Regions from separate parts of the Homo sapiens genome. Here regions 2 and 3 are each linked to region 1. The links come from fine-mapping of genetic effects on gene expression. A gene starts in region 1. Each other region holds a variant in brackets. All regions are shown on one strand. Distances are between the middles of the regions. Region 1 holds the start of CRIM1 (cysteine rich transmembrane BMP regulator 1). Region 2 overlaps CRIM1 (cysteine rich transmembrane BMP regulator 1). Region 3 has its middle 87 kb from the start of CRIM1-DT.

The links. PIP is the estimated chance that this variant, and not a neighbour inherited with it, causes the effect. A credible set is the group of variants that fine-mapping cannot tell apart.
Region 2: its variant is the best candidate, but not a certain one, in a credible set for the expression of CRIM1 in monocytes (BLUEPRINT, PIP 0.58).
Region 3: its variant is the best candidate, but not a certain one, in a credible set for the expression of CRIM1 in whole blood (INTERVAL, PIP 0.72).

Annotation. Positions count from the first base shown.
Region 1 is chr2:36,350,077-36,360,897 of GRCh38, reverse strand. It overlaps CRIM1 (cysteine rich transmembrane BMP regulator 1), which reads right to left and starts at 5,120. Exons shown (of 17, transcript NM_016441.3): 1 at 4,275-5,120. The coding sequence starts at 4,605. CRIM1-DT (CRIM1 divergent transcript) reads left to right here and starts at 5,328. Exons shown (of 2, transcript NR_037631.1): 1 at 5,328-5,810; 2 at 5,917-6,149.
Region 2 is chr2:36,468,176-36,478,996 of GRCh38, reverse strand. It overlaps CRIM1 (cysteine rich transmembrane BMP regulator 1), which reads right to left. Exons shown (of 17, transcript NM_016441.3): 6 at 1,926-2,108. Among named protein-coding and RNA genes, the nearest start is that of CRIM1, 120 kb to the right of the region's middle. RefSeq lists a silencer at 2,277-2,571. The variant G/C (reference allele first, on the strand shown) is at 5,560.
Region 3 is chr2:36,263,603-36,274,423 of GRCh38, reverse strand. No RefSeq gene overlaps it. Among named protein-coding and RNA genes, the nearest start is that of CRIM1-DT, 87 kb to the left of the region's middle. RefSeq lists enhancers at 2,616-3,240, 3,241-3,866. The variant A/G (reference allele first, on the strand shown) is at 4,675.

The DNA.
Region 1 (10,821 bases):
AATGAAACCCATTATTCCAAAACAAAGCCAAGAGCTTAATTTTTCTAACTATAGAAGCTGATATTTTGCCCCCCTCCCGTTACTTAATGAGTGAATTAAAATTCGTGGACTCTTAACTTCAGGCCCTACTACAGAGTGGTGAGAGTAGTTTCCATGCGGCTTGTGCAGAATGAAATGTTTGGGTTCATTATCTGGCCTCCTGCAGCCTGCTTTCTGGAGCAGATCCCGCATACATTTTCTTCCAAGCAGCCATCATCTTCACTGACTGTCTTCCAGGGATAAGCAAAGAAACTTTGCATGGCAAGTTTCAGGAAACAAAATTCTGTTTTTTGCTGTAAGTACCCCACTATGTATACATAGTTCTCTTACACACTGCCCAATGAAAAATGGGTAAAAGGAACAGTTAAAATTCCTGGGGGAAATAAAAGGAGGATTGCGTTCTGAAAGAGGTCGTTTTTAGATAGCAATGGTGAAAAAGATGGAATGCTAAGTTCCAAAATATGAAGCTACTGAGTAAATAGTCACCAAGAAAAAAATTGGTGCTTATCTGATCTAGCTATCACCTGAATCTAATACAACAGAGTCCTCGGAACAGTGACTCAAGTAGTCTCCACCTGGTTCCTCATCACTCTGTCTGTACAAACTGCCAAAGCAAGTCACCATCTGCCCTTTAACTGCCCAGAGAGGCTGGTCATGCTCTCTCACCTTGCCTCACTCCTTATAGAAGCATAAAGCGCTATGACACATGGGAGAAGAAATGGCTCTCAACCCCTTAGCTCAAAACATAATTCTCACTGTCCAATCAAAATCTTCTTTCTAGAAAATCTCACTTCATTAATTTTTCTAAACTCTGCCTTCGATCCTCCAAAGATGTCTTCCATCCAGATTTCTTTCTCAGGGGTTCAGGATCCACACTTGTTTCTCTGGCTTCTAGGTGATTTTCCTGGAGGCAGGCAGCCTGGCCAAGAAAACAGGCCAGTTAGGATGCTGCAAAGAGCAACAGGAGGTCTTAGCAGACGAATGGAAAGAGGAAAAAGACCTGCACTCTCCTAAGTTCCAAAAAGCACTTTCTAGACTGACAGAAAGTAGGAAAAACTTTTAGGTATCAGGCTCCATGCTCATTTTTTCAAATGCACTTACCACCCCCAGCCCCCACCACAAAAGGAATAATTCAATTAGAATTTATTTAATAACAATCTAAACAATGCGGAAAAGAAATCCAAGTGCACATCTCACATGGTGCACAGGACACAACTCATCACATTATTTAATCATTCAGAAAATATTTTTTTTCCTTCAGCATTCTTTCTATGGATAGGATTGTTCTTCCGTTTGTTCAATGTACTTTTACTGAGAGCCAACTAGACCAGCATGCCTTAAAAACCTAAGGCTGTGAGCCACAAGCTGAAAGGGGCCCATTTCTGCCCATGATTTATCTAACTCATTTTGTGAACTGCAGTTAAAAACGTAATTTTTTTCCCCTACAAAGCCAGTATGAGAGTAAACACTGCTAAAAATTACTGCAAGTTGGCAAACAGAGAATATAATTTGTATTTAAATTATGTCATCGAAAGCAGGGAGATTAGTCATGATAATATTTCTATAACATGCAATATGTTTTTACAACGTAGCCAATTAAATAAGTTTTCAAGAGTTTTCATTAACAGATACAACCAGTAGGGGTCATTTTAGTGCAAAAATTGCAGCAAAAGAGACTTCAACATGAATAAAATATATTGATTCCTATTCATGTTAGTTATGATAACCATGCTTCACCACGTGAATTTCTGAATAAAAATGGAAACTGAGGGAAACACTGGCCATTCCGAAATTTCTTGTAAACTCACAGAAAAACAAGAGATAATCAATACCTTCTAGGTAACTGCTGACATCTGAAGGCTCCTCTAATTCTTTTTTTAAAAATGGCAGGCGGGGGGCGGTTGGGGTATCACTTATCCCATGCTTTCCATAAATCTTGTCGTTAAGTGAAAACACTGAAATTGTAAACACACGATTGAAAATATCTGTCTAAATCCAACCATTATATCATGCCAGGTAACACTGTCCTTACTTTGGTTTCACAGATTTAGAATGCAAGTTGACTGCTGTTTTCAGTATTTTTTTTTTTAAAGGAAGTGCCCTGGACACACAATATTGATAGTTGAAAACAGGCCTGTAAAATAAAAAGTGTTTCTAGAGAAACTAATTGAGATATAATCATGTCAACAAACCCTTCCAAGCATTTCAAAGCGAATACCAAGCACACAGGGTGTTGCCAGAAAAAAGGAAGCTATGAGGGATCACATCATTTCAGAGGAATGAAAGGCTCACGAAACTGCCAAAATAACTCTATACTGTGACATGGGATATTGCTGCCACAACACTCGATTACTGTAAATGTTCCCTGAGCACTTCCTTCACCAGAAACAGACTAAGAAGAAACAAAACAAGGGTTAGAATCTTCAGAACCTGCAAAAGTCCTTCTTGGAACACAGCAGTTTCCACTGCATTTAACTGTGTTTCATGTCGCCTGTTCTTTTCAGATTTACGAGAGGCCGGATTAAGTTATACACTTGAAGCGGCAGGGTTCAAAGATGCATCTTTTAGTCTAGGTCATTCAGAATTCCCAAAGTCAAAACACATACAATGGTATCAGAAGTTAATCTCATGGCCATTTTTCTTGAGGTAAGGCATAAAAACAAGTTATAAAAGGGGACAATACCAGGTGAGAGGCTTTTTTGTACTTCAGGCAAATGATCTCTTCTAACCCAATGTCTTACGTGTGCAGCAAAGCAAGAGCAAGTCCCTCCCCTCTGAGAAGAGTTCCCTTCACTCATCACTGCCCACTAGCTTCCAAACCAGAAAACCCTCCCCTATTTTCCTGAACTGTCCAAACCCCAAACTATTCAGGTATAAATAAGTACCTATGTGTGTGTCTGTGCGTATTTAGAGAGAATCACAGCACTGAAGCCTTTTAATAGGTCCATTGTTATCCTTAAGGCTGTCACCTCCTTTTTCAGTATCCCAGCATACTAAACAAACACACACAAAGATGCTTCGGAATAAACCGTTCCCTGGACGGTGCTGGCTGTGAGTAGTGAGGAAGGCACGCCGGGCAGAGGGCGCCTGTCCCTCCTCGCCGCCTCCCCAGAAACGAGGCTGCTGCGTGCGCTCTGCTCACTCGCCAGGATGCCCCCGGAACAGCATCATCAGCCCAACGTCAGCCAGAGCAGGGATCCCACTTTTAACTGATGCTTACCGAACCGTGCCCCCGTTAGCCACATCAAAATAACTCACTGCCTCGCTCTAGACCCCAAACCAGACCAGGCACCCTGAAGGCCGACGCAAGCGGGCAGGGATTAAAGCCAACACGCACTAACATTGGCTCCCCAACGAGAAAGACTCCACTAATCTAATCTGTTTCTCCCACCGTCAATCTCGACACCGCGGAGCACAATGCGTGCTGGAGAAGCCAGCAGAACAATCCCCGCTGTCAAACAAACAAAAAGGAGGAACCGGCAACACGACAGGAAACACGCGGGTATCTGATATTAAAAAGCAGCCACTAATAGCAACAACTTTTTACTCCCAGGTGCAACCCCCACCCCCCTTTCCTTTCAGGAGAGAAAGCCTTTGACCGTTTACAATGGGCAAATAAATGAGTAACCACCGTGTGTAACTTCCCCTGGGCTGACATATTCCGCGGCTGAAACTGATTTATCTGCGGAGGAGGAGGAAGGGGTGAAGGAAGAGCTCAAGGAAAAAATAATAAGAGTCACTCGGGGAGTGCGAGCTGGAGACACGTCTCCTCCGCCAACAGAAAAAGGACTTTCGCGGCCGGCGTGCGGCTCACGGTGCCACACTGCGCCAGTGCGGGGAGGGCGGTAGGGCCGGGCTCCCCGAGGGGCTCGCGCGCGGCAGAATCTGCAGTGCCCCCCGCCCGCGGCGCCCCCACCTCGGGGAGCAAGGCCGGGCCACCCAGTCCCAGCAGGAACGGCCACACGTGTGCGCGTCTGCGCGGGGACAGGGGCGATCCTCCACTCGCTCGCCCCCACCCACCATACCCAACCTCGCCCGCGACTGCCTAAGCGTCGGGGGGAACAAGGAGAGGGAACGCAGGGCCGCGGGGGCACTCTCCTGGGGGCGGCGGCCGCCCCTCTTCCCGCAGAGCCCTCTTTCCTCCAGAAAGTCTCGCCCAAACTTTGTTCGGCACAACCAGCGCCGAGGGGGCGGCGCAGGCCAGGTGGGAGGGGGCCCGCAGCGGGCGGCCGTACCTTCGCAAACGCCCGCTTCGTACTCGGTGAGGGAGTCGCCATTGAGCGGGGGGCGGATGACACAACGCAGCCCCCGGTCGCAGGTTCCGTAAATCCCGAAGGTGCCGCCGCAGCTCTCGTTCCTCTGGCTGGCGCACGTGTAGCAGCAGCCGCAGACGCCCTGCACGATGCTCCCCGGGCAGTTCCTGGGCTCCTCGCACTTGGACTCGTCACAGGGCAGGCAGACCAGCGCCCGGGTGCCGGAGCGCGCCAGCAGCAGCAGCAGCCCCAGCAGCGAGACCAGGAGGTGCCCGCAGCCGGCCAACCCCCTGTCCCCCGCCACCAAGTACATCCTCCTGCGCCGCCGCCGCCTCCTCCTCGCAGCCGGGCCGGGAGCGGGGCGGGCGCCCTCCCCTGCGCGGGGCACACGCGCCGCCGCCGCCGCACCAGCAGCCCGCGGTCCTCACCGCCCCTCTCGGGGCCCCCGGGGCGCGCCTCCCCTCGCGGGGCGAGGCCCCCGCCCCTTCTGCGGGCCGCGCCGACCCCGAGCCCACGAGCCTTGGCGCCGGCGGCAGCTTCCCCTCCTCCTCCTCCTCCTCCTCCCGGGAGGGAGGGGGAAAAAAGAAAAAAGTTTCCTCCCGGCAGCTCCGGTTCAACCCAAACTTCTGGCGCGGCGGCGGCGGTGGCTGCTGCGCTCGGCTCCAGCCCGGGCCGGCGGCGCCTCCTCCCTCTCCTCCTCCGAGTCGGCCGGCCCCGCAGCGGCGCAGCCTCCGGGCCGGTCCCCGCCTCCCGAGCTGCCGAGTGGGCGCGGTGGCGCAGCACAAGATCCGCGGCGTCCGCTCCGCGCGCCCCGCTCGCCTCACTCCTGCGCCGCTCCTCCGGGCGCTTGTTTATGGCTGGAGCCTCAGCCGCTCGGGCTGCGCCCTCCCCCATCCTACCTCCTCCCCCAGACCTTCCCCCCACCCCCACGCGCCGCGCGCCGCTCATTGGCTGCCCCCCCTCCCCGGCCCGGCCGGCCCCCTCCGCCTCCCCCTCCCCCTCTCGGGCGGCCGGGCCCTTCCTCCCTCCCTCACACGCCTCCACCTCTTCCCGATCTCCTCCTCCCCGAGCCCGGCGCACCGAGCCGGCCGTGCCACCGAGCTGCGGCTCTGGCCCCGGCGCCGCGGGTGCGCTGCGGATGGGCTTGGGGCGCACCCAGCGAGCAGCGAGAGTCGCGGTGTCCCGGGCGCTCGCTGGCACCGTGGCCGCAGCGGCCGGCCTGGGAGCCAGGAGGGCGAGGCGGCTGCACCTTCGGGGCCAGATTGGAGTTCGAAGAGTGGCGGGTACCCCAGAAGCTCGGGGCCGGGGCGATGGCTGCAGCCTCGGGAGGGTATCGCCGGATCGAACTCCGGGAAAGGGAAGCAAAGGCATGGAACCTCCGCACACTGGATGAGAATCCATCTTCCATTCGAGCTGGGAATAGACTTTGTGAAAGATATTATGTAATGGAGTCTCGGGAACCCTGAGACCTCTCCAGCGAAGCTGAAGTGAATTAATTAAGTGCTTTAAACGGTCTTGGTAAATATTCCGCGGGAGCTGGGGAGGACCGTTGGGATGGCTGTAGCTTGAGTTGAATTTTAACTGTCCTCATTCTGGGTTTTGTCGCTCTGCTTTCTGTGCCAAGGTGCTGTGTTACGGGAGAGAGTGACTGGAAAGTAACAAAGCTGAATCTTTCTCCCTGGAGTAAGGCCGAAGACTGGATTACTACACGCCTAGACGTGACACTACACCCATAGATCTCATGCATCATTAATGCCATATGACATTGCCATTTTCTTTCTCAGTTCACGGACAAAAGTGGTGGGTTTTCATTGTCTTCACTGATTGTCAATGCATTAATAAAGAAGATGTGTGGTACATAGTCTTTGTGATAAATCAGGTAAAGAAGCAACGGAAGTGATGCAAAATGCACGGTGTGGAGATGGTTTCTCTTCAGTGGTTGTCAGAAAAGGTTTTCGTAATGATGGCTCTGTCATTGATGGGATATGAAGTAGTAATCCGCTCCGTAGTGACCTACCATTCACAAGATGGGTACCAGGTGAATAACATTAATTAATTGACAAAAAGTGACTGTGGTCAATGGGGGAAAAAATCGATCCCGTGGCAGGTGTGACGTGGGAATGGCTGGCCCACCCTCTGATCCAAGATGGTCTGGCTGCAGGAAGGTGGCAGCCAAGTGGATTCTGAAAATCGTGACTAATGAACCGAAAGTTAATAGCTGGCAGTGCAAGGAAAGAGGAAACAAAGCTACCTTTGAAATGTTATGTTTGTGGAACAAATTCATACTTACGATAAATATTTTAGTTTAACCACTCTGTCTAATCCTGAACCCAAAAGCCAGAGTTACCAGTGGACTATTCCCCCATGATGGGCATCAGCAAACTAAACATTTCTCCTATCATATTTCTTTGTCCAAGGAGAGGAAGAGGCTCATTAATTATCATTGATTATTATAGGGCCATGAGGAAGATGTTCAACCGTGGAAAAGGGGAGAGAGCATTGCATTTTCTAGACGGGTTTAAAGAGTTGTTGCAATGAAATGATTCCTGTAGTTGGGTGGGAAGTCCGATTAGATGATCTCCAAAGGCCCTCATACCCTGTGGGTCCATAATAAGTGTTAAGTGGCAAAATCGTTTAAAATATGCTAGGTTTTCTATTAGAAAAACCGAAGAGACTGGGCGTGGTGGCTCATGCCTATAATCCCAGCACTTTGGGAGGCCAAGGTGGGCAGATCACTTGAGGTAAGGAATTCGAGACCAGCCTGGCCAACATGGTGAAACATGGTGAAACCCTGTCTCTATCAAAAATACAAAAATTAGCCGGGTGTGGTAGCGCATGCCTGTAATCCCAGCTACTCAGGAGGCTGAGGCAGGAGAATCACTTGAACCCAGGAGGTGAAGGTTGCAGTGAGCCGAGATTGCGTCATTGCACTCCAGCCTGGGCGACAGAGCAAGACTCTGTCTCAAAAACAAACAAACAAAAAAACTGAAGAAAAATAAAACACACATTGTTAAACATTGTTCTTTCTTGTCACCGAACAAGGCACCAGCACTTCAGTGTGGGATTTGCCAACAAACTGTCATCATTGCTCTGTGTTAAAAGGTCCCTCCCACTCTTGCAGAGGAGGTTATCTGTATTTCTGTTCAAATGCAAGTATAAAGACATTAAAATGTAGCAGATAACATTGTAGGACCTGCAGGAAAAGCCAAGGTCAGGTGATGAGAAAAAGGCAGAAGTGAGAAAGCTACTGTGGTTAGGAAAGAAGGAGGTAATAAGCATTGTCAAAGTTTAGCTTCTATTTATTTTTAAGGGGATATATTAAGGATTAAGGAAAGCTACAGATGAGCACAGGCAAAGGATAATTTGGAGATGACTATTCATTGTTCCTGGGACTTCAGAAGTAGAACCACCTGGAAGGTAGATGGACAGATACAACATGAGAAAGGTTGACTTCTCACAGGAATTCAAGTCAGGTTTAGAAAGGACTAGGGAGATTCTTTAAGATGAAGATGATTGTATCAGCTCAAAAAGAAAAAAAAAATCAAGTTACATTACACATGCCCTTTGGCATAAAATTAATAGTCATAGAAGCAATAGAGAAAATAGGATTCCTTGAAGCCAGTGACTAGTGGCGAATGAGAAACCTGCAAGGTCCTGGCAGCTTTTCTGAAACCAGTGTGTGAATCAGGAGCTCAGTTATGAAACAGCTCTTTCTTCTCTGGGATCCAGGAGGGATGATAATGAGGTAGTGAGAAGCTGAGGCAATGATACTGAGGCTCGAATACAAAAGTATTTTCTTATCTTCAAAGACCAGACTATGGTTACAGAAAGAGTTTGGGTGAGCCCAACATGATGACAATCAGGTGTCACGGGTGAAAGTGGACTAGGAAGAATTACCCTGAAATTGAATGGACCCTGAAAGTCATGAACGAATGTTAAGAATTAGAGCCACACATGAAAGGCCTCCCTTTCTGAGAAGCCTTCTTGAGCTTCTTTATCTGTTCTACAGCATTTGTAAGTACCTCTGCTTGTAGCATTTATCATGTTACATTATAGTTATTTAAATAACTCTGAACCCAATTAGCTTGTCAGCTTATTGGAGAGGGCAGGATTTATAAAAATGCATGCATGAATGAGTTGAAAAAGGGAGAGTGAAGAATTACAGTCAAAATGATATTTGAATATTATTGTCTGCAGCCCTTCTCTCTTGGTTTTAGTAAATACCTCAAAATCAGTACTTGAAAGGGATGGTATGGGCAGGAGGGAGTCATCGAAGTTTGGGGTGGGGGTGGTGGGGGGGTGGGGGAGGGGTTGGGGAACAGGTCTGCAACGAACCAGGAATTACGAAGTATTTCTGATGGAGGTCTAGAAGAAGAGATCGTCTGCCCTCTATTGGCCATCCTGGGGATTAATAAATTGTTGAAAATGTCGAAAATCAAAGTGCCCATTTGTTGGCCTAAGCAGAAAGTGGAAATGAGAGGGCAATAGACAGAATGTTAGTATTAGACCCCGCCTTTCCGATACAGTGTCTAGTCCACCTATAGTCACACTCTGTATTTTCTCTTCCTGAAATGAAAAGAAAAATGTAGAAGTTGCCTTTGAGTTTGGCTCACATACTCTTGGAATTGAGTTGCACTTTGTATTTTCTCTTCCTGAAATGAAAAGAAGAATGTAGAAGTTGCCTTTGAGTTTGACTCACATACTCTTGGAATTGAGTTGCACAAGAGAAGAAACCTCATTGTGTTATGAAAACGTTGCATACATATTAGAAAGTGGTACGAATAAACCAGGGTAGCAGGTCTGGCCCGTTTTACCCTCTTAGGCCATCTCTCTGGTCTCCTCAGCTGGGATCACCTATATATGGGTTCTCACTTAATCTAGGCTTGGCACTGCAGTGATATAGACAGACCCTAGTTTGGAGGCTCAACCATCTGGATGTTGGACTCTTAATCTGAAATTGAACTCTATTATCACCACGTAATACCTTATTTTTGCTAAGTGGGTTCTTATTTACTCTGCCTGTGAATGATAGCTGCTGCAGAACTACCACAAGGTTTACAAGACATCTGCACAGAACACAGGTTCTCTTTGATGTTTGGCCTAGGATCCTGACACACACACACACACACACACACTCTCTCTCTCTCTCTCTCTCTCTCTCTCTGTGTACAAGTTTAAACAAGGTATTTATCCTTTCTGAATCTGTCTTCTCTGTAAAACAGAGACAAGAATACCAACCATACAGGGTATCGTGTGGATAAAATGATTGCTCTCCTTTTCTATTGTTATTTTTAGAGTCCTTCTAATTGAGTGTCTCCTCAAGTTTTATGCTTGAGCTGGAATCCCTGCTCTCTGTTATCTTAGCATCCATTGCTGTGCAACATCTGCTGGATCAGATATTTGCTTTTTTTTTTTTCTTTCTTAGGATCTTCTGTTGGCCTTGTTTTGACAGTCTGTCTCATCTTGGGGTTTTAGCCTCTGTGATATTTTCTCAGACTCATTTTGGTCTCTGACTTATTTTAAAGAGCAGTAATTGGTAATGATAATAGTAATAGCTGACACTAATAAAGATCTTATTAATTGCTAGTCAACATGCTAAGTGCTTCATATAGGTTATTTTAAGTAATCTACGGAAGAGCGCTGTAAGACCAATGGTTTCTATTATCTCTAGTGCCTTACGTTGTCTTCATTTTTTACAGGTGAGGAATCTGAGTTATAGGAGGTTGTGTGGCTTGTCAAGGTCTCAGAGCTATGTGTATGGATATTAAGCTTAGAACTCAGTCCTATTCTGCCTTAAGGGCCTGTGTGTTTAACTACCTCAATTCAGTAAGTTGGGTAATGGTGAGCTGCTTTTCTTTTCAGTTTTGTTGTTTTTTGTGGACCTCATTTAAAATTGCTAACATCTATGACAATATCTTGTCTTCTTTGAGAAGTTTAAATACTGATCAGCGTTTTCTCAAAATGGAAATAAGATCATTGCTTTCCTAACTACTGAATAACAAATATTTATGTAACGTTTGCCATGTGCATATTTTTTAATTACCTTACAATATTACCACATTTAATCCTCCATAAAAGCTGATGAGGTAGGTACTGCATTTTACAGGTACATTTACACCTATTTAAAAGGAAAAATTGGGGTGGGTGCGGTGGCTCATGCCTGCAATCTCAGCACTTTGGGAGGCCAAACTGGGTGGATCGCTGGAGCCCAGGAGTTTGAGACCAGCTTAGGCAACATAAGGAGAACCCATATCTACAAAATAATAATAATAATGAACTAGCCAGGCATGGTGGGATGTGCCTGTATTCAGGAGGCTAAGGTGGCAGGATTGCATGAGCTTGTGAAGTTGAGGCTGAGGTGAGCCGAAATTACACCACTGCCTTCCAGGCTGGGTGACAGAGTGACACACTGTCTCTTACTTTTCCAGTAAAGGAAAAATTGGAATTCAAACCTAGGCAGTATGGGGACAGAATCCACTCTATGCAATATTACTTCTAATGTATGTTTTTTAACAAATACATGCTCACT
Region 2 (10,821 bases), 120 kb before region 1:
ACTTGTTCATGACAAGGCTAGTCTAGACATACCATGGGTCACTGTGCCTTGGAGGAGCGCTGTGAACTTAGGCCATTTTTTCTCCCATAAGTTGGGAAGCTAAGCTGCAGCCCCAGGTGGGAGACAGAAGTAGCCAAAGCTACTGTAAAAAAAAAAAAGTTTCTGAGGTTACTGACAAGTATATAAATACTGCATATGAAACCCTCTCTTATCCCTCTATTGAGAGCAACCAGATAAATTACTCAATTTTCTTTCTCAGAAATACATAAAAAACTGGCTTCAACAAACAACTACTGCTGTGCTGAGAGAGGAATCCAGACAGTTCATAGAGTTTGGTCATCATTATTCTAAGGACATAGTGGGACATTATAATAAAGTCAGTTAGAAGGTCAGCATTTAAAATAATGCCATCACAGCGTTAGGAAGGCAGTCTGCCAGAGAGGGAGGCGGCCAATGGACCTGAGCAAGAGAAGATTTTTTAAATTCCTGTGTAAAAAGTATTAGAATACATATTTTTCTACGTTGAGCCTGGATCTGAATTCCAGGAAGTGAGACATAACTGGATCCATGCCCAGACAACTCAGTATGATGACTACACAGAGGTTCGTATCTACATTTTTACAGCATCAACTGCTGCACAGTTTCAGAACTATTGCAGACTGGGGGCAGGTAGGGAACAAAACAATTAGAAAGGTTAAAAATTTGAAGTAATTCTTTTTAATTGTCAACATCACCTAAAAAATAAACTACTTTTCTCCTATGTTGGGTAAAATAACCTCTAGTAGGGAAAAGAACTCACTGTTATGAACTATGTTAGGAATGCAATTTTTATACTTTAAACATTTTCAGATCTTCAATATTATGTTGTAAATATTGCTCAAATATCAAAAGGAGAAAATTTTATGAAAATGAGGAAGTATGGAAAGTGGCATGACACTGTGCCCTCCCACTTTGTGTGCAGAGATCAGGCATAAGATTAACACATGCGACTTCAGATTGAAGATCTGGGGCCTGGTTAGGACAGGAAGGCTCACAAGACCTTCCTTTCTGGGGAAACAGTGTTGTGTTGTCAGAAGAACACTATAGACACAGTCAGGCACGGGGTTATTGTTACTGGCTGCAGTGTAAAGTGACTTTACAGGCAAGTGACTTTTCTCTTCTGAACTTCAACATCCTAATCTGTAAAATGTGTGGGTTGCAGGGAGTGATATTCAGAGCAACTGTTTTGAAATGCTTATTGTTTATGAACATCAGTGATGGGAAGATGCAGCCTGTTGAAGGAACATGAACATATTACTTCTTGGAGAGAAAAGGGGAATCCAGACAAAGCAGATTCCTGAGAGTCACACCTGACACCTGGCTGGGCCTTGAGTTGGTGTCACCAGGTGGTGACCTGATACCACGACCCCATGTGAACCACCACATATTTTCAGAGAAGCAGTAGCAGGTCCCTGATCTCCCTGGAGGGTCCTGGGTATTACGACAGTGGCAGAGTTAGTTCCTCTCTGGGCCGGCAGGCTGAGACTGTCAGGGTGAGGCCCACATTATCCTAACTGAGCAATCTGAGGTGAGGAGGTGGTGAGCTCTAATGCCAGGGTGAAGATAAAGCTTTGCCCTAGGACTTGCTGAGGAATTGCTAGAACTGCAGGGGAGGAACGGAAAACAACTCTGGGACATCTCACGTTGCCTGTGGAAAGAGGTGACCCATTGTCTACACCCAGGCATAGCTTCCCTTAGGGAAGTGTTTCCACACACTCTACCTGGCTTTAACATGCTAAAAGACAGACCATGGTGTCTTAAAAAAGGCTAAAAAAGGAACTTCAATATTCCTTTACTTTTGGATGAGACTGAATTAGGACGATTTTGATTTTAGAACTCTATACCATGTATGCTCCTGTTAATCTGTAATTAGCACCTTTTCTTACCTTCACACACTGGGCAGCACTCTCCTTCGGGCACGTAGTACCTCTCGCAGTTTATCTCACCACACTGGGCGGTGAAGCAGATGGCAACGCCCCCTTGGCATCGACAGAACCGACAGTTGTCCATTCGAAACATGTCTCCATCATAATATTCCACATTGTTAAATACGCAGGCTGGCTTTGTATCTGAAAAGAGTTAAAACAAACAAGGCATATTTGTAGTCATTTTTTAGTTGTGTCCTTTGATGTTTTTCAAACAGCCTCTAGAAAATTTCTAATAGGAGGTTATAAGTTGATGGAAATTTACTCAACTCAATGTAAGTTCATGTAACAGAAAACAATAAAGTGAAGCAAAACAAAATAAAATAAAACACACTGTTATCCAGTTTACACCAAGGAACAGAAATTCCCCCTAGGAAAATCTACACTGACTTCCTTCCATCCCAGACAAAGCTAAACTTTATGACCATGACACTCACATATCTGGTATGTGCTTTAAAGTGATTCTATTTGTTTGGTTAAATCATTGTCTACCTCAAATGAATGATCCTGCCTCCACATTAGGTTTTGTTCTGCTTCAAAAATTTTATTATGGTCTTTTTTGAAGTGGTGATGTTCTGTTCCCCCAGTGCTCTCTCTTAAATTCTTTTTCTCTGTACATGGTATAAACACGTATAATTTTAATAGTGTTTGGCCTTTAACAAAATACTCTCTATATGTATCACCTCACTTAATCCCTATAATGAAGGTCTGACATAGGTATTATTATCCTGAGTTTAAAAGTGAGGAAATCCTAGGTAGTTTACTCAAAGTCACACAGCAAACGACAGAAGCCAAAACAGTAGCTCTTCAACTGAAACCTTGTGCTCCTTCCATTGTGCTTCAGGGTTATGTTCTGCTGAGGACTCATAGTCCCATATTTAGAAGTCTCATCACGATATCAATGATTTTTAAATTTTTCTCTGCCTTGAAACACTCTCCCTACATTCATTCTTTAATTTTAGTTGATTTAAAATAACTCCCACCAAGACAAGAAAACACAACTACAGATCAGTATATTATAAATGTAGACACAAAAATCTTAAAAAAAATTACTAGCAGACCACATCCAGCAACATATAAACAAAATTATACACCATGACCAAGTGAGACTTATTCCAAGAATGCAAGGTTGGTTTAACATCCAAAATATTAATGTTAATACGATATGTCACACAATAAGGAAAAAAAGCAACATGATCATTCGATAGACACAGTTTTTGGCATCTGACAGAATCTAATATTCTTTCATGATAAAAATGCTCAACCAACTAGGAATAGAACGGAACTTCCTCAACTTGATAAATGGCATCCTCAAAAGTCCTACAGCTAACCTCATACTTAATGGCAAAAGTCCAAGTGCTTTCCCCCTAAGATCAGGAACAAGACAATGAGGTGTGTTCTCACCACTTCAATTCGACATAGTAATGAAAATTCTAGCCAGAGCAATTAGGAAAAATAAATAAATTAAAAGCATCCAGATTGGAAAGGAAGAAGTAAAACTATCTCTAATTGCAGATGACATGATCTTGTATGTAAACAGTTTTAAGGGATCCACTAAAAAACTATCAGAATGTATAAACAAGTTCAACAAGGTTGCAGAGTACAATTGCAACTCCCCAAATTGTGTTTGTATACCCTAGCAATGAACAATCAGAAAATGAAGAAAACAATTCCAATCACAATAGCATCAAAAAGTATACAATACTTAGGAATAAATGTAATAACATAAGTACAAACTTGTATTTTGAAAATAACAAAACATTTTCAAAAAACTAAAAAGGCCTAAGTAAACGGGACATCCCGTGTTCATGGATTGAAAGACAACATTGTTTAAATGGAAATATTCCCCAAATTGATCTACATGTTCAATGCAATCTCTATCAAACTCCTAGCTGGCTCTTTTGTAGAAATTGATAAGCTGATCATAAAATTCATATGAAAATGCAAGGGACCCAGAATTGCCAAAACAATCTTAAAAGGGAGAACAAAGTTAGAGAACTCCTACTTCCTAATTTCAAAACATAATACAATGCTATAGTAATCAAGACTATGTGGTACTGCCACAGGGATAGATATATAGTTCAATGGAATTGAGAGTTCAGGAATAAACTATCACATTTACAGGTATTTTGACAAGATGGCCAAGACTCAGTGGGGTTCAAAGTCTTTTTTTTTTTTTTTTTTTGATATAGAGTCTCACTCTGTCACCCAGGCTGGAGTGGAGTGGCGTCATCTGAGCTCACTGCAACCTTTACCTCCTGGGTTCAAGTGATTCTCCTGCCTCAGCCTCCCAAGTATCTGGGACTACAGGTGCATGACACCATGCCCAGCTAATTTTTGTATTTTTAGTAAAGACCATGTTGGCCAGGCTGGTCTTGAACTCCTCTGACCTCAAGTGATCCAACCACCTTGGCCTCCCAAAGTGCTAGGATGACAGGTGTGAGCCACCATGCCAGGCCTGAGGTTGAAAGTCTTTTGCATTATCTACATGCAAAAGAATAAAGAAGAAAACCCTATGCCTCACACCATATACAAAAATTAACTCAAAATGAATCATAGAGTTATGATCTAAATACAACAGCTACACCTACAGTGCTCTTAGAAGGAAGCATAAGAGTTAATCTTTGTGGCCTTTGATTAGGGAGTGGTTTCTTAGATGTGACATTCAAAGCATAAGCAACAAAGGAACAAAACAGATAAACTGGACTTCATCAATTTTGGGACTTAAAAGGACACCATCAAAAAGGTAAAAAGACAACCCTACAGATTGGGAGAAAGTATTTGCAATCATATATCTGATTTAAAAAAACTGGTACCGAGAACTCCCATAATTAAACGATAAAAATAATCTAATCAAAACGGGCAAACCTTTGAACAGACACTTCTTCAAATAAGACAGAAATGGACAATAAACACATGAAAAGATGCTCGAATCATTAGTCACTCGGGGAATTCAAATCTAAGCTGCAATGAACACCATTTCACACCCACTATGATGGATATAATTAAAAAATAGTAACGAGCACTGATGAGGATGTGGAGAAACTGGAATTCTCATAGATTTTTAGTGAGGATGTAAAAGCACAGCTGCTTTGGAAAACAGTTTGTGAGTTCCTTAATTTGAGTTATCATATCATCAAGCAACTCTACTCCTAGGTATATACCCAAGAGAAATGAAAATATATACCCACAAAAAAGCACTATAAACAAATGTTCCTAGCAGCCCAAGAGCCAAGAAAGAACGAACCTAAATATCCATTAACTGATATATAAACAAAAAGTAGTATATCTATACAATAAAATATTACGTGGCCATAAAAAGAAATGAAGTTCTGATATGCAATATAACATGAATGACACTTGAAAATATTATGCTAAGTGAAAGAAGCCAGTCACAAAAGACAAGGTATTAATATTATATAACTCTACTTATATGAAACACCCATCATAGGCACGTCCATAGAGATAGAAAGTAGATTAGTGGTTGCCTAGATCTGAGAGCTTAGGGGGAAAATGGGCAGTGACTGCAATCAGTTCAGGAGTTTTCTGATGGCTTGATGAAAATGTTCTGAAACTGATTGTGTTGATGATTGCA[G/C]AACTCTGAGCATACACTGAAAACAACAGAATTGCACAACTTAAGTTGGTAAATTGCATGGTGTCTCCTAAAGCTATTTTTAAAAAAAGTACTCCCAAGCTGAAGAAAGTTCTCCTGAGGTGATGAGCCCTGCTCAATCTGCCGGTGAAAGCTGGATGATGATATCCCCATCTTTCAAGGGCTCTTCTGTCCATCCCCAAATCATTTAATATGTCCCCTTGCATGTCTAAAATACTTTCACCGCATTTGGAGGATATTTGCATTTGCATTGTACTCAAGGACAATTACTTTATATTTATTTTATAACAACCCCGCTAAGAAGACAGAACGAGTATTATTAGTACCAGTTTTTTCGATAATGAAGATGAAACTTAAAGAGATGACGTGATTTGCTTAAAGTCACATGAATGAGGCAGTGATTTTATGTGTGCACACGTACTACATGTGAATGTTTAAACTCCTTCCTTAGTGCTACATGGATACAACATTTTTTCAGAAAATTAATGTTAAAAAAGAATCATCTTACCATGGCTCAGAATTCTTCTATATACTTTTAGCTAACAAACTAATCTGAGTTGGGATTGAAAGGAATTGTGCAGCTACACTATAAGTTCCAAAAAGTATAGAAAACGGAGTACTTTTATACATTAAATTTGCAGGCTGTAGAGCGAGGCAAAATACTGTACTCTAACAAAATGAACATCCATGGAAACTAAAAAAAATAAACCAATCAATACTAATTATTTGGTTGAGTTGATCAACCACAGCTACCATCTGGGTGAAGCCACAACCCTGGTGCATGATCTGAGGAAGTGTGGAGGGCAGGTTCTGGTTATGAATAAAGCTGCTTCAAGTGGACTTGTTTTTATGGTAGGGTGTGCAGAAGCTTAAGCAGGAGGGGATGGGACTGACGAGAGAACTGTGGCACTTAGGTTTCACTAGCAAAAGCACAAGGATCAAGGGAGTGGAAGTGAGAAAGATGGAGAATCCTAAAAACACAGCCTGGAAACACAATCAATCTTTAAGGGTGAAAAAAGTCACACAACACAATGAAATCTGTTTGATGTTCAAAGAGATTTATAGAGGCTCTTAAGAAAAGTATATGATAAAAAGGCTACCTGTGGTTTTTGAGGAGCAATGACCAATTACTTCTTCACCTATCAGGGGTAGATGTGAATCTCAGAACAGTGTGGAGATTGCCACAATCTCCACAAAAGGATGATTTAAGTGGATGTGGAAAAGTGTTATGAAGAAATAATTTACTGTGTAATTTGTACTTCTCAATATGAAGCACAGAAGTGCCTTTTTAGTGATTTTTTGTATGTGTTTTGCGTCTGCAAAATTAAACTTTAAGTTTCTAAGTTCTGGGATCTTCCCTTCCTTCTTGAATATACTTCAGAACTCCTAAAAGAGAATTTTGTAATATAGACTATTAGTACATGCTACTGCCTACCAAACTACACTGATTGGTGGATGGTGATAGATACACCTCAAAGATATTGTGGGTTCAGTTCCAGACCAGCTCAAGCAAGTCACACAAACTTTTTGGCTTCCCAGTGCATTTAAAAGTTATGTTTACACTGTACTGTAGTCCATACTTGTCTAACCTGCAGCCTGCGGGCCACATGAGGCCTAGGATGGCTTTGAATGCAAACTTTCTTAAAACATTGTAAGATGGTGTGTGTGTGTGTGTGTGTGTGTGTGTGTGTGTTTAAGCTAATCAGCTATCATTAGTGTTAGTGTATTTTACATGTGGCCCAAGACAATCTTCTTCTTCCAATGTGGCCCAGGGAAGCCAAAAGATTGGACACCCCTGCTATAGTCTATTAAGTATACAATAGCATTATGTCTAAAAAACAATATACATTCCTTAATTTAAAATACTTTATTGCTAAAAACTGCTAACGATCATCTGAGCCTTCAGTAAATAGTAATCTTTCTGCTGGTGGAGGGTATTGCCTTGATGCTGATGGCTGCTGACTGATAAGGATGGTGGTTGCTGAAGGTTGGGGTGGCTGTGGCAATTTCTTTAAATAACACAATAATGAAGTTTGCCACATTGACTAACTCTTCCTTTCATGAAAGATTTCTTTGTAGCATGTGATGCTGTTTGATAGCATTTTACTTACAGTAGAACTTGTTTCAAAACTGGAGTCAATCCTCTAAAACCCTGCTGTTGCTTTATCAACTAAATTTATGTAATAGTCTAAATCCCTGGTTGTCGTTTTATCTGGTGAAGATGTTGTCACAGCATCCTCACCAGGAGTAGATTCTATCTCAAGAAACTACTTTCTTTGCTCATCGATAAGAAGAAACTCCTCATCCTTTCCAGTTTTATCATGAGATTGCAGCAATTCAGTCACATTCTGCAGGTTCCACATTTAATTCTAGTTCTCTTGCTCCTTCTACTACATCTGCAGTTACTTCTTCCACTGAGGTCTTCAGCTCCTCAAAGTCATTCATGAGGGTTGGAATCAACTTCTTCCAAACTCCATGTTAATATTCTGACACCTTCCCCTGAATCACCTGTGTTCTTAATGGCATCTAGAATGGTGAGTGAATCCTTTGCAGAAGGTTTTCAATTGATTTAGTTCTGATCCATCAGAGGAATGACTATCTACAGCAGCTAATCTTATGAAATGTTTTTCTTAATTAACAAGACTTGAAAGTTGAAATGACTCCTTGGTCCATGGGCTGCAGAATGGATGTTGTGTTAGGCACGAAAACAACACTAATCTTGTACACCTCCATCAGAGCTCTTGGGAGACCAGGTGCATTGTCAATGAGCAGTAATATTTTGGAAGAAATCTCTTTTTCTGAGTAGTAGGTCTCAATGGTGGGCTTAAAATAATCAATAAACCATGCTGTCATCCAGGCTTTGTTGTTCCATTTATAAAGCACAGGCAGAGTAGATTTAGCATAATTCTTAACAGCCGTGGGGTTTAGCTTAAAGTTATCAGCTGCATTAGCCCCTAATAAGAATCAGCCTATTCTTTGAAGCCAGGCATTGACTGCTTCTCTCTTGTTATGAAAGTCCCAGGTGGCATCTTCTTTCCATAGAAGGCTGCTTCCTCTACACTGAATATCTGTTGTTTAGTGTAGCCACCTTCATCACTTTTCATAGCTAAATCTTCTAGATAACTCTCTGCAGCTTCGACATGCAGCTTGTCCCATCCCTCCACCAAAACAAATTAAAACCAAAGTGAAAAGAGAAGGACTATTCATGGAGGATGTTCTCTCCATCTGTTCATTCAGGCTAGTGTTTTCAAAACTCAGGAGTTCTTGAGTTCTGTGTGTTTTTAAATCCTTAAGTTTTCCCTTTATTAATTATACTGATGACATGTTCTTAAAGTTGTGAATGTGGACTAGCCTCAATAAATATCTGGTCTTGCTAACTATACTCTCATAATTAATGGCTCGGTATTAAATACTATAAGACTAAAAATATGTTTGCTAGTTTCAATTGGCTTATTCCACAGGGAGAAGAGGGGAAGTGTGTGTGTGTGCTGGAGGACACCAAGCATATCCTATTTCAGGAAAAGGGGAAGAGAACAACCCTTAGAAAGGATTACAACAATGTGTATCACTCTTTAACAAAATTAGCTTAACAAGGCCCCAGGAACACGAGGGGTGCTCAATAAACACATACTGAGTGGAGTATTGCTCTCAAAGTGCCAGAATATCTCCATTATTCTATCAGTAGAAGACATTACGTCCTTAGAAACATTATGAGCATAATTGCTATATAGACAGTGGGTTCTTAATGTTTTCTGTACTAGTGTTTTTTTTTGAAAATTAACAGCCTGCAGGTCTGAATTTTCTAGGCCAAAATTTTACATGAGGAGCAAGCTGATGCTGGGTACGGCTCCCCTTTAAATGGTGATTTCACATGTTACTGTCTTAGAGAAAATTCTGTCAGGGCCAACATAAGATTACTTCCAGTTTTTATTAGCCTTTCGTATATGCCTGAATAAAACAGGAACTAATTACTGGGTGGGCAACATGACCTTCATCCAGGCTCCTCACTGTTAGTGCTGCATTTTAATACTGCTGTGAGAAGCAGAGTGCTACAGGGACAGTGCTCCAAAACAGAAGTATTTCAAATGGCACAAAACAGGCTAAAAACACACGCTAAGTTGTATTCAGATCCCCTTTCTCTGAACTTACTTCATAACCCCCTGAAGTTGCTTTTGGCTAGTTGTGCCATACACAAGTAATGCTCCCATCCCCACCCCATCCACCCACCACTCTTGGCACCACTGGGAAGAGGGTACTCTTCCTCTTTTGTGCTGATGACTTGTTTAGAGCTGTGAATGGGGGCTAGCCTCAATATATATCTGGCCCTGCTAACTATGCTGTCAGAACAAATGGTTCAGTATTAAATACCGTAAGGCTAAAAATATTTCTGGTAGTTTCAACTGGCTTCTATCCAATAACAATACTATAGACTAATTCATTTACTCACTTGGGGAACGTTTTATAAGTAGGTCATACAGACAGAGTCAGCTTTTGGCTACGACTTTCCAACCAAGATATTCCATTTTATCTAGATGTTTGTGTATATACGTTGGACAAATGCTCGTATCTAAGAAACCAAATAATCACTTGCACACTCTACACCTAGGATTTCAAACCCAAATGCCTCCAGGAACGAGAGGTGGGCCATGTGTAAGACAGCAGGGGGTACTGTGTTAAGTGGAGAGCATCCACCCATCTAACAGTAGAGGCCATTGTCCAGCTCCAGCTGACGGCTGATGGGACATTTGTTTGTGGGCAGGAGCAGACATACAGTGGGTTCTTGACGAAGGTGGAGGGCTGTTACAACACTGCTTTGGAGGTCATATTTCTAGGTGATGATTTTGATGACTTCTAAGTTCACATAAAAGAAACATAATCATACCACCTGTTCCTTTGGTTTCTAAATAACAAGGATCTTGTTCAGCCAAAGCCTCATAAGTTCTCCTTTCGGCGCTTGTCAGAGAATGCAGTTACAAACTGTCATGAACTGGTCTGCAACTCTCCCATCCCTCCGCCACAACAAAATAAAATCAAACTACAAAAACAAAGTAATATTTATGGAGGATGCTCTCTCTGCATCTACTCATCAGGCTAGTGTTTTCAAAACTCACGAGTTTTCGAGTTCTGTGTATTTTAAAATTGTATGTTTTCACTTTAAAGTTGATTTTAAAAAGAAAAAAACATAAGCATATGGATCACATGGATGGCAGCATAGGAAGTGAGTGCGGCAGTGCATAATCCATT
Region 3 (10,821 bases), 86 kb after region 1:
TTGACTGCAAAAGGGCATGAGGCAACTTTTTAGAGTGATGGAAATATTCTATATTTTAATTATGATGGTGGGGTGTTGGTTACCTGACTCTATACATTTGCTAAAACTTATTAACTGTATCCTTAAAGTGAGTGCTTTGTGTGTGTGGGCAAAGGATTCTTTAATAAACTGGACTTAAGAGCATCCTCAGATGTCTTCTCATTGCAGTTAAGATGAAATCAAAATACTTATCATTTTCTTCAGCCATTTATATATTTTTTGTTACTTGATGTAACTAAAATCATTCTCATTTCCATGCCTTTACCCCAATTCTTCTGTCTACCTGGAAATTTCTTTCTCTAAGTATTTGAATGGCTAACTATATTGATTTCAGAAGCCAATTTCTCAGAGAAACTTTTTCTGTCTTTGATGCCTAAAGTGGGTCTTCCCTCTCCTTCAAGTCAAACTGTATCTCATTATTCGGTTTTATGCACTTAGCAATACTTGAATAGTCTTACAAATGTATTTATTTGCTTCCTTGTTTATTTCTTCTCTGTCATCAGCAGTCTGCAAATTTCTGGAGGAAATGGAAACTTTCAATTGGATACACTGTTGAGTCTCCCAAGCTAAGGCCAGTGCCTGGCGTACTGCAGGCATTGAGTGAATAAATAAATGCGTAGCAGGAACTTAATAAATGTTTGTCGACTGGCTAAATGATTGAACCTGAAGCCACAATTGCAAAATACTGCCACTTCATGTTTAATTGGAATGTTATGGTACAAAGAATGTAGAACAGTGATGCTAATGGAATATGTACTTAAAATATATACATCCATCAACAGGCATTTATTAAGGGCTTTCCCTGTGAATGGCACTGAGCTATATGTGGCAGTCACTTATTTTGAAGGAAACATTCTGTCAATCATTTTCATCCAGTCGTTCAAACTTTTCAAACGAATAGTTTTTAAGGAAAAGTCTTCTTAGTTCTAACTTCTGCAAGAAACCTGTGGAAAGTGTGGAAGTAAGTTATTTTAGTCATTTTTTTTCTTGTTCTTAAACTTGTTGTTAGAAGTGTTTGAAATCTTTGCTAGATTTGAGAAATTCTGAAACCAAATGTCGTTTTCTCTATCAAATTACAATTGGCATAGTAAAAATACACTATTTTGGGCAAATAGGTAATTCTAAAAAATGGTAATGTTGCCAACTCTATTTCCAGGAACTGAAAAATGTGGCCCTGTGCAAGTAACTGGGCAGTAAGTAATCACTCCACTGGCATATAACCAGGTGATTCTTTCGATATATGCTTATTAGAATACATCACAAATTAAATCTGAAGACATATTTTTATGTGTAAACAAATTTGAAGCCAGAGTAGAATGTTCTATGGGAACATAGCTGCATGAATAGTACTTAAAGAGAGTAGTTAAATCACCAGCAGAATCTTCCCTCTTGACACACACACATGTACACACAGTAGAAAACATAACTGTTTTTTTTTTTTTTGAGATGGGATCTTGTTCTGTTGCCCAGGCTGGAGTGCAGTGGTGCGATCATGGCTCACTGCAGCCTTGACCTTCTGGGCTTAAGTGATTCTCCCTCCTCAACCTCCTGAGCATGTGGGACTAGAGGCGTGTGCCACCATACCAGGCTAATTTTTTTTTTTTTGTTATATTTTTTGTAAAGCTGGTGTTTCGCCATGTTGGCCAGGCTGGTCTCAAACTCCTGAGCTCCAGCGATCCGCCCGCCTCGGCCTCCCAAAGTGCTAAGATTACAGGAGTGAGCAACCGTGCCTGGCTGAACTCTTCTTTATGATAGCTGTGGTCTAGTATTTACTCTTGGGCCTTATATTACTTCTTTATTTTTGTTTTATTTTATTTCATTTTTGATGCGCATATTAAGCCAAACAGATCAAGAAGAGAAAAGTGTCTTCCAAGAGTTCAGGGTTGCAATGCACTGAGCCCAAATGACTCATTGCAGGAACATCACTCCCTTCTGGAAGGAGACAGTGAGGTGGAAGCAGGTGAGGGCAAAGTGTAGAGGTGCAAGGGGTTCAGTGATGCTGACTGTCTGGCATTTTTGCTCCAGATCTTCTAACTCCCCTTCTCAAAAGTGAATAACACATACTTAGTGACAGTGACAGTCAAACGTTTCTGATAATTGTGTCTTCTAAAGTAGCACCAGTTCAAAGGAAGTAACAGTAATTGAGCAACTTCACTTATCAAATGATGGTATGTCAATTAGAGGCTTAAAAGTGTCAAATCTGAATCTTCAGTGTTTTGCTGTAATTCACATTATGCTGTTTACTATAGAGTCTAGGATTTAGCTTTATTTAGTATCATTTGAAGAGAAACAAGCGCATTATTTTATTTAATAATTAACATGATTATTTTGAAGTTGATTGACCTGTATAATTTCCTGTTCCTTCTTTCTTCAATGATGAAATAGCATTTACTACGTAGTTTATATTGAACCCTCTACACAGGGTATTTTAAAGATTCTGATGTCTAATGTTCTTGGATCTAAAAATTGTAATAAAACAGTGGTGCTTTTGCTATGCCTTCCAATAATCATCACTGGCCTCCTGGACTCTTACAATTATCAAGACAAAGGCTGAGAAAAATAGTGAAAACCCCTGCCATTATTTTCAATGGCATCCCAGAACAGGCACTGGTTTGTTAGGCCACCTCTATGGAGTAGGATTTACTTACTCATTTTGCTTCTTGACTTTGGAGATGTAACTGTAACTCTGGATTTACAAAGAAAACTTAGGCATATTTGAAAGTAACTGAAGTGACACTAGAGAATGAGAACCATGAACAAAATCCTATTCATTTGTCTCAAAAGAAGAATAACTATAACAACAGGATAAAGAACATAATAAAAACAGGTACTACTTGCTGTCCACTTACCAGAGTATGGGCTTTCAAATAACTGCATGTAATTTTCACAGCATGTGAAGTAAGCGCTACTGAGACACAGGATGGTTAGTTTCCTGTTTCCAGGATCAAATAGAAAGCACCAGAGCCAGGATCTGAGCCAACTCTCTCTGCTCAGTGCACTCAGTCCACCACACTACAATACCTCCACTTCAGGATACTTGTATATGATGAACAATAATATCTTGTAACTAATATTTTTGTTTGTTTTCTGGCTGGGCTCAATTTGTGTCTTTGTTTTAGCTGGCCCTGGTCTAGAATAATCTTCAGTATGTCTTAAACCATCCTTGTCTTGTGCTGTCTTTCATGGGGCTATACCCACCTCTAGATCCAGGCCCTTATTACTAATCACAAAAAAGAAAAAAAAGATCAGGCCATTGGTATACGGTAGCTTTAAATCTACATTATAAATATACTGCTCACTAACCTGTCGAAAGGATGCAGCTCTTCTGTGATTTCTTTTTGTTATCTGCTGGTCTCTAGTATTGATAATTTACCACCCTGGGAGTGACTTCCTTTTGGGTTTTCAGATCTTGAAGCTCTGTTTCTGAGCTCTCTGCATGCTGTCTTTGTGTTCTTCATGATCGGCATTCTGCCTGCCTAGCGGGCTGGGGAGGCTTTTTTGATGGAACAGGAACTCCTAGGTTGGGTCAGAGCTGAAAGCGAATGATTGCCATTGCTCCCCTTGAGAAATGCAGTTAAAATCCTTTTCTGGGTATAGCAGCTCTTGTTTCTGTACTTGAATCATTTTATGTCCACTGGTTGTATGAGGTATACAATGAATGCTGATTTTTTAAAAATTATGAACAATCCAAACTGATTGTCTACAATTTTTCAATGAAAAGTCCCTCTTTGACTAAATCTTTCTGCGTTTTCCCTCATATTTAACAAAAAATTAAAAACTAAAAGCCCTTAAGTTTATAATGAAAATATATATCTAAGACATCATCAGAATAATCGAGATTAAATAGAAGCTGCTACAGTGTATTATATTTTACATTTCTGAAAGTCAGATCTCCTGAAAGGCATTTTTCATACATTTAATCAGATGTTTTACCCATCATAATTCAATTTAACAAATATTTTGGACTATCTGCTATCTTCTTTGTTCTGAGTTGAAAACTGGTATATGTCAAATCAGTATAAAATCATTTCCCCACTCAAGAAATTTATAATCAAATTAGAATATACTAACATACAGGTGTAAGTATGTGTGTTTAAGTATGAAACAATCAGATAAAAATCAGGACAATATATGTTTTTGTTAAATTAGCGTATCTAGACAATAAGTACAATAGGAATTCACAATATTGATATCACTTAAGATAGTTTCTTCAAGGTACTAGCCATTTTTCTAAGTTTTTCATCTCAGCGGTGAGGCTTGACTCAGTTTGGAAAAAAAAATCCTCAACAAAACAATTTTAAACTTATGGCTCTTAGGTATTTGCTATTATTGCTTTTCTTTCCATGTAATAAAGGGGCAATGTGTACCTGTATCCTCTTCTTACTCTGGAGTTACTGAGCCACTTTTTTTTTTTCCTGCAGTGTCTTCGTGCCAGTTGCATCTCATTTCTTATTTTGTTTTTCCTGACTGCATTCCACAAGGTTGACCTAAAGTCAAGTTATTTGGTTTCCTGGGAAAAATAGTATCTTTCTTACCCTTGTCACTTGGTTCTCCAGCTTCAGGTTTAAATTTTAATTGACTAATATTTGTATAGTTCCATTATGTTCCCATTTAAGGATAGCATTAGGTACCAGT[A/G]TCTCTTTTCTTCAGAATATTTTTTACACATAATAATTCTAGATTTATAAGTTGCCAACATTAGTGTAATATATTTCTTGAGAAAAGACGTGGGGAAAGTTGACACAAATCTGCAAATATAATATTCAGAATGTGGACTATAATAAAAACTGAAACTGCATCCTTAGCTGAAAATTATTACTTTTGTGACAAAGTCACAGAACTCCATCTCATGCTATATTTAATGCTTTTGTGAAGAGTAAACTTTGGGGAAAAAAGAATCTGAAAGTGCACCTAGCTGGAATAATGAAAAAGGAGCATCGTATATCATGAATCAATATAAGTTTATGTTTGAGGAAAGCAAAATGACCAGCACGGACAATGAAATGTTTCAAGCACTATAAAATGTATTGAGTTCCAGAAACCAGACAATTTTGTGTAAAATGCTCTCCAGATTCATTTCCCCATGATAATAAACAGTAGAAAAAATGTGCCAAAATAAAGAAAAAATGTTTTGAGAAGCATATTAAATCAGAGAAATGATACTGTCATAATTGATTTTATAAAGACACTCAGAAAAGTAAACTTGATATATCTAGCATCAAGCTTAAAATGGCACATCCAGCTATCAGTGGTCAATGAGAAACAACTGAAAAACTGCCTCACGAAGTTTGGAAAAAGATCCCCAAATGAAACTCCTAAAAATAAACCCTGCAATCACACTGGCATATGTGATCAGTATGAGATTTCATATTGTGCACCCCTGTTTACTCTGAGAATGTGCTTCTTAATGGTTCATGTATACATCATGGCTCTGCTCAAAGTCACTCCTGCAAGAAGCCCAGAGGCTTCTATCTGGAGGCTTGATCTTTTAATCTAATTTAGATTTTTTTGTCTTGACATTTTTAACTCATATATTGATATTTTTTATTTTCTTTCCCGGAAGTCATTTTAAATCTTTGTAGAATAAGAGAAGTATTTATGAATACATTTAAACATACACAAATACACATTTTAATCAACCTGAGGAGGGTGATATGTGGACTATTGCTTTATAGTCTAAATGGTCAGAGAGATAGATGTACACCATTCAAGTTTTGCTTTATCTAGTAAAATAACTTTCTAATTGAGAATTACAAGTACAAAAACAACAAATAATTACACATGAAGTATTCATTTAGAATATTATTCGAAATAAAAAACAGATTAACAGACTATTATAAATAAGTCTATGATTTAAGGTAATAATACTAAGATTAGGTTAAATGATTTATTTGCATCTTTTGCCTTTGTTTGGGAGGTGGCTCCTCCAAATATTAGTTTTGTGATGTTAGGCAGTTTATTTAATGTAAGCCTCATTTTTTCTTATCTGAAAAATTGGGAAATTAATTATACCTACCTCATAGGATTGTTTTGAGGATTAAATAAGTTAATACTTTTAAAGGTTGGAACAGTAAGCAAATATAGACATACCTCATTTTTGCTTTATTGAGCTTCACAGATACTGCTTTTTATTTTTTTAATTGAAGGTTTGTAGCAACCCTGCATTGAGCAAGTCTATTGGCACAATTTTTCTAACAGCGTGCACTCACTTCATGTCCCTGTATCACATTTTGGTAATTCTTGCAATATTTCAATTTCATTATTATCATGTATTTTATGGTGATTTGTGATCAGTGATTTTCTTCTATTCTGTGGGTTGTTTTTTCACTTTGTTGATAGTGTTCTTCGAAGCACAAATGTTTTAAATCTTAATGAGGTGCAAATTATCTATTTTTCATTTGCTATTTAGGTTTTGCTGTTATACCTAGGAGTCTATTGTGAAACCTGAGGTCATAAAGATTTACTTTTATGTCTTCTAAGAGTTTTACAGTTTAGCTCCTGTAATTAGGTCTTTGATCTAATTTGAGTTAATTTTTATATATGGTATGAGTTAGGGGTCTAACTTATTATTTTCCATGTTGCTATCCAGTTGTGTCAGCACCATTTGTTGAAAAAACTGTTCTTTTGCCCAGTGAATTGTCTTGGTAGCCTTGTGAAAAAAAATCAATAAATGTGAGGATTTATTTCTGGACTCTAAATTCCATTGCTTATTCTTATATCAACACCATTTTATCTTGATTACTATAGTTTAGTAGTAATCCTTCTAGTACTCCCATTATGTATGTGTTGATGACTTAATATCTCATACTTTTCTGAAGCTGTTTTCATTTCTTCTTTTTTCCTTGAATTGCATAATTTTTATCAATCTATCTTCAAGGTTTCTAATTCTTTCTTCCGCCAGTTCAAATATACTATTGAGCCTCTCTCATAAATTTTTCATTTCAGTTGTGTTTTTCAACTCCAGGATTCTGACTTCCCCCCTCCCCTCTTCCTCTTCCTCCTCCTTCCTAGTAATTGTTACATCTTTATTGACATTCTTTATTTGATGTGACCTTGTGATTACACATTTCTTTACTTGTTTAATTGTGGTTTCTTTTAGTTCTTTGAAGTTATTCACAATGGCTTCTTTTAAGACTTTATCTGTTAAACTTAACATCTGGTTCCTCTCAACAGGCAGTTTCTTTTGCCTGATTTTTTCCCAGTGTGTAGGTCACGTTTTCCTGTTTCTTTGCATGTCTCATATTTTTTTTTTTTTGCTGAATCTGGACATTTTATATAATATAGCAACTCAGCACTGGTCACCCCCTTATGGGGCTTGTTATTGTTCTTTTGTTTCTTTTTTTTAAATTTAACTGACTGACTGTATTACTATAGTGGCATCTATTCTTCCCATGCAGTCCAAAGCCTTTCATGTTGCTCTTCAGGCTTGGGTGTGGTCATAGCCACTCTGGGATGACAGTAATTTTGGTAGTTGATTCATGTTTTCAACAATGCCCTGGGTATAAACTGTGTCACAGACTTACCCAATCAAATTTGATCACCTTTAAAGGGATAGTTTCTGAATTCAATGTTTGAAGGTTGTTGCTGTTGTTGTTATTGTTTGTCACAAGAGGGCTCCTCCCAGCTGTCTCTTTCCTTGGTTCTCTTAGGCAAACTAGCTAGCTGACAGCGTAGCCTGTATGTACAATGCGTCTGCCAGTCTCCTCCCAGTTGCCTTTCACCACAACTTCCACTGTTTCTTAGGGTGCTTTTAGGCCTGAATTTTTCCACACTCTCTTGATAATGAAGACAGTTTTTTTGTTGATGGGAAAGAGGCTAGGGGATATGTGTTTTTCTGCCTGCTCTCTCCCCTTAGGTAAAATCTCTGGAGTCGGGGGACAATGGTGTGCTTCTCTTTGAGTCACACTCTCACTTTAGGAGCTGAGCACTCATTGGAGGCAGACAGAGGTCTCAAGTCTTCTTGGTTTGCCTCTCCCTGTGTATGAACTCTACCTCTGAACCAGGGTAAGGGTGATTAGTGGCTCAGTATTTTCAGTGGCATCTAACACAATATAGAGCCTCTCTCCTATAAGTAGGGACTGGACAGAAGAAGGGAGCATGCACCTCTTGGCTATACTCACCTTGAACTTCAAATGAACAACAGGTAGCTGGGGAAATGATGAGAAACGCTGACACCCTGCCTTTCCTGCGAACAGAGCCCTCTGACTGGGAGCTGGGTAGGAGAGAAAACTCTGTGTTCTCAGCTGTCCCAGCCTGGAGAGAAGTTTCCATCTCACAGAGCTCGGGGGAGGAGAGGGCGGAAAGAAAGGGAAGAATAGGTCTTGGTTGAAATAACCGCGGGCTCTTGCTGTTCTTACCACATTTTAGTAGATTTTATTGAACAAATATTTCTTCATTTGATGTATGCCCTTAGGATCCTTTCCAGAGACTTTAAATGGTTGCTCTTTTTCCATAAATTTTTTTTTTTTTTTACCAATTTTTCTAGCATTAGGGAGGGGGGACTCCATGGAGCTTCTTAGGCTGTCATGCCAGAAACAGAACCCATGTATTTACTTTTACATGATATAATAAATACATGTGATAGAAATGATATTATAAACACATGTGGAATGAAACAACACATGTTCACCTATCTCTATGTGCTGTTTGTTTATACGATTCCCCTACATTCCCATCCCTCAGAGGGACCAAGTATTTTTTTCCTTTTTATTTTATTTTAATTGACAAATAGTAATTGTATACATTCATGAGGTATAGTGTGATGTTTTGATATGTGTATACATTATGGAATGATTAAATCAGGATAACTAACATGTCTATCTCTCAAATACTTTTTTTTGTGTGTGTGAGCATTTAAAATCTGCTCTCTTAGGAATTTTGAAATACACATTACATTATTGTTAATTATAGTCATCATGCTGTGCAATAGATTTTAAAAACACATTCTTCTGTCTAACTGACATCAAAGGGAACAAGTTTTGACATTTTATGTTTATTATTTCCTTTACCTTAAAATTATTTTATCAAATAATTATTCATGTGTAAAATATATATTTAATATTAATTATTTTTGAAATTACATGAAGACTTGCTTCAATGTAGCCTTCTTAGACATAATTTTTTACTCATACTATCAAGATTTTTCTACATTGCACTATGTGGCTGTAATTAATTCATTTTTACTTTTACATAGCATTTCATAGGGTGAATTGATCATATTTACAAGTGTATTCTCCTTTTGATGGGTACTGGGTTGTTCTCAGTTTTTCTTTTCAATCAGTGTTTAGCCCACTTTATTATGACCTTCATCTCTAGCATTTGACTGAAATTGGTGACAGTAAGTCATTAATTATTTCTATGTTGCCAAATCAAACAGAAACTTTTAAGTTGCTGGGAGCTGAAGGCCGGTTACATTAAGTTCTCATCTTACAAGTCTACACATTACTATTCATCTAAGTTGGCCTCTTTCTCCTTGAAAAAAATCTCATTTTCTTGACTTCCATGACACTTGTCTTCTGGCTTATCTTCTGCCTCTGATGGCTTTTTTATAACCTCTCTCGTCCTTTCCATCGTCTTTACATGGCCTCTAAATGATATTCCTGAGGGCCTGATCCTGGGAATTCTTCTCTCATTTGACTTTCACTGATTTAAGGTGGAAAAGTATCACCTTGAGGTACTTATTAAAATACAGATTCTAGGTTCCTGGCCCCAAGAGATTCTAATATAGTAGGTATTGGATTAAACACAAGAGTTTGCACTTTTAATGAGTACCCATCGCTGAGTGAATTTAGGTAGTTCTTTTAGGTAGTTCTCAGAATTTATTCTGCTGCCTCTTGTCCTGCAAAAAATTCTTTGCTTTGCTCAATTTGTGAAGTCTTTTAGCAGTTTTACAAAATGTTTATTTTTTGCAGAAATCACTGGCATGAATAACACACTTAGAAACTCCTGCATTTAAAATTGCATTTAAACAAAGCATAATAGCTGTCAAACAGACTATACTCTTTTCTATACCTTGGCAATAGTACCAACAGAGGGGCTGGCTGTGTGGCAGATCCATCCTGGTAACCACCAGGAGTGATGGAATATCTTTTATAGTCAGTGATGCTGGTCAGGCTAAACAACTCTTTGAAGCAAAGGGGACTCAAGAACCATAGCCACCTAATAAGGAAAAGTTGATTGATTAAAAAGGATTCCCCTGGTATTTATAGGTTTGGGCAGTGTGGTGTTGATGTGCAAGATGGTGCTAATAGATAGGCAGGGGTCAACAAATTAGGATCTATAGGCCATTTTAAGCATGTTTGTCTTTATGTAGCTTGGTATAAGATGCCACTGGAGAGTTTAAACATAAGGTGGAGGCAGAAGGTCCCATGATTTTAGATATACATTGGAAAAGATCGCTCTGGTTGCATGTGTGAATAAAATAAGTATGGGGTTTAATTCTGCTTATTGGTTTAAGGAGAATAATTATGAGGTTATTGTTGAAATCAGGTAGGGATGTATGTATCTGGAATCAGAGTAGTAGCATTCGAGGTGGAATTTGATTCCAGAGATAATTATTATTTACCATCAACTGGGCTTGTAATTAGACTGGATATAGTAAACGATGGAAAAATATATTTGAGGTGCTTTCAGGTTCCTGACTAATACCGTTAGATGAATAGAGGCGCTATTGACTGAGGAGTGGAAAGATATCAGAAGAAGGCCTGTTGGACCTCTGATCTTATCAACAGTGGTGTTGTTAGAGCTGAAAGATAATGACCTACATAGACAAGTCCTGTCTGGTGG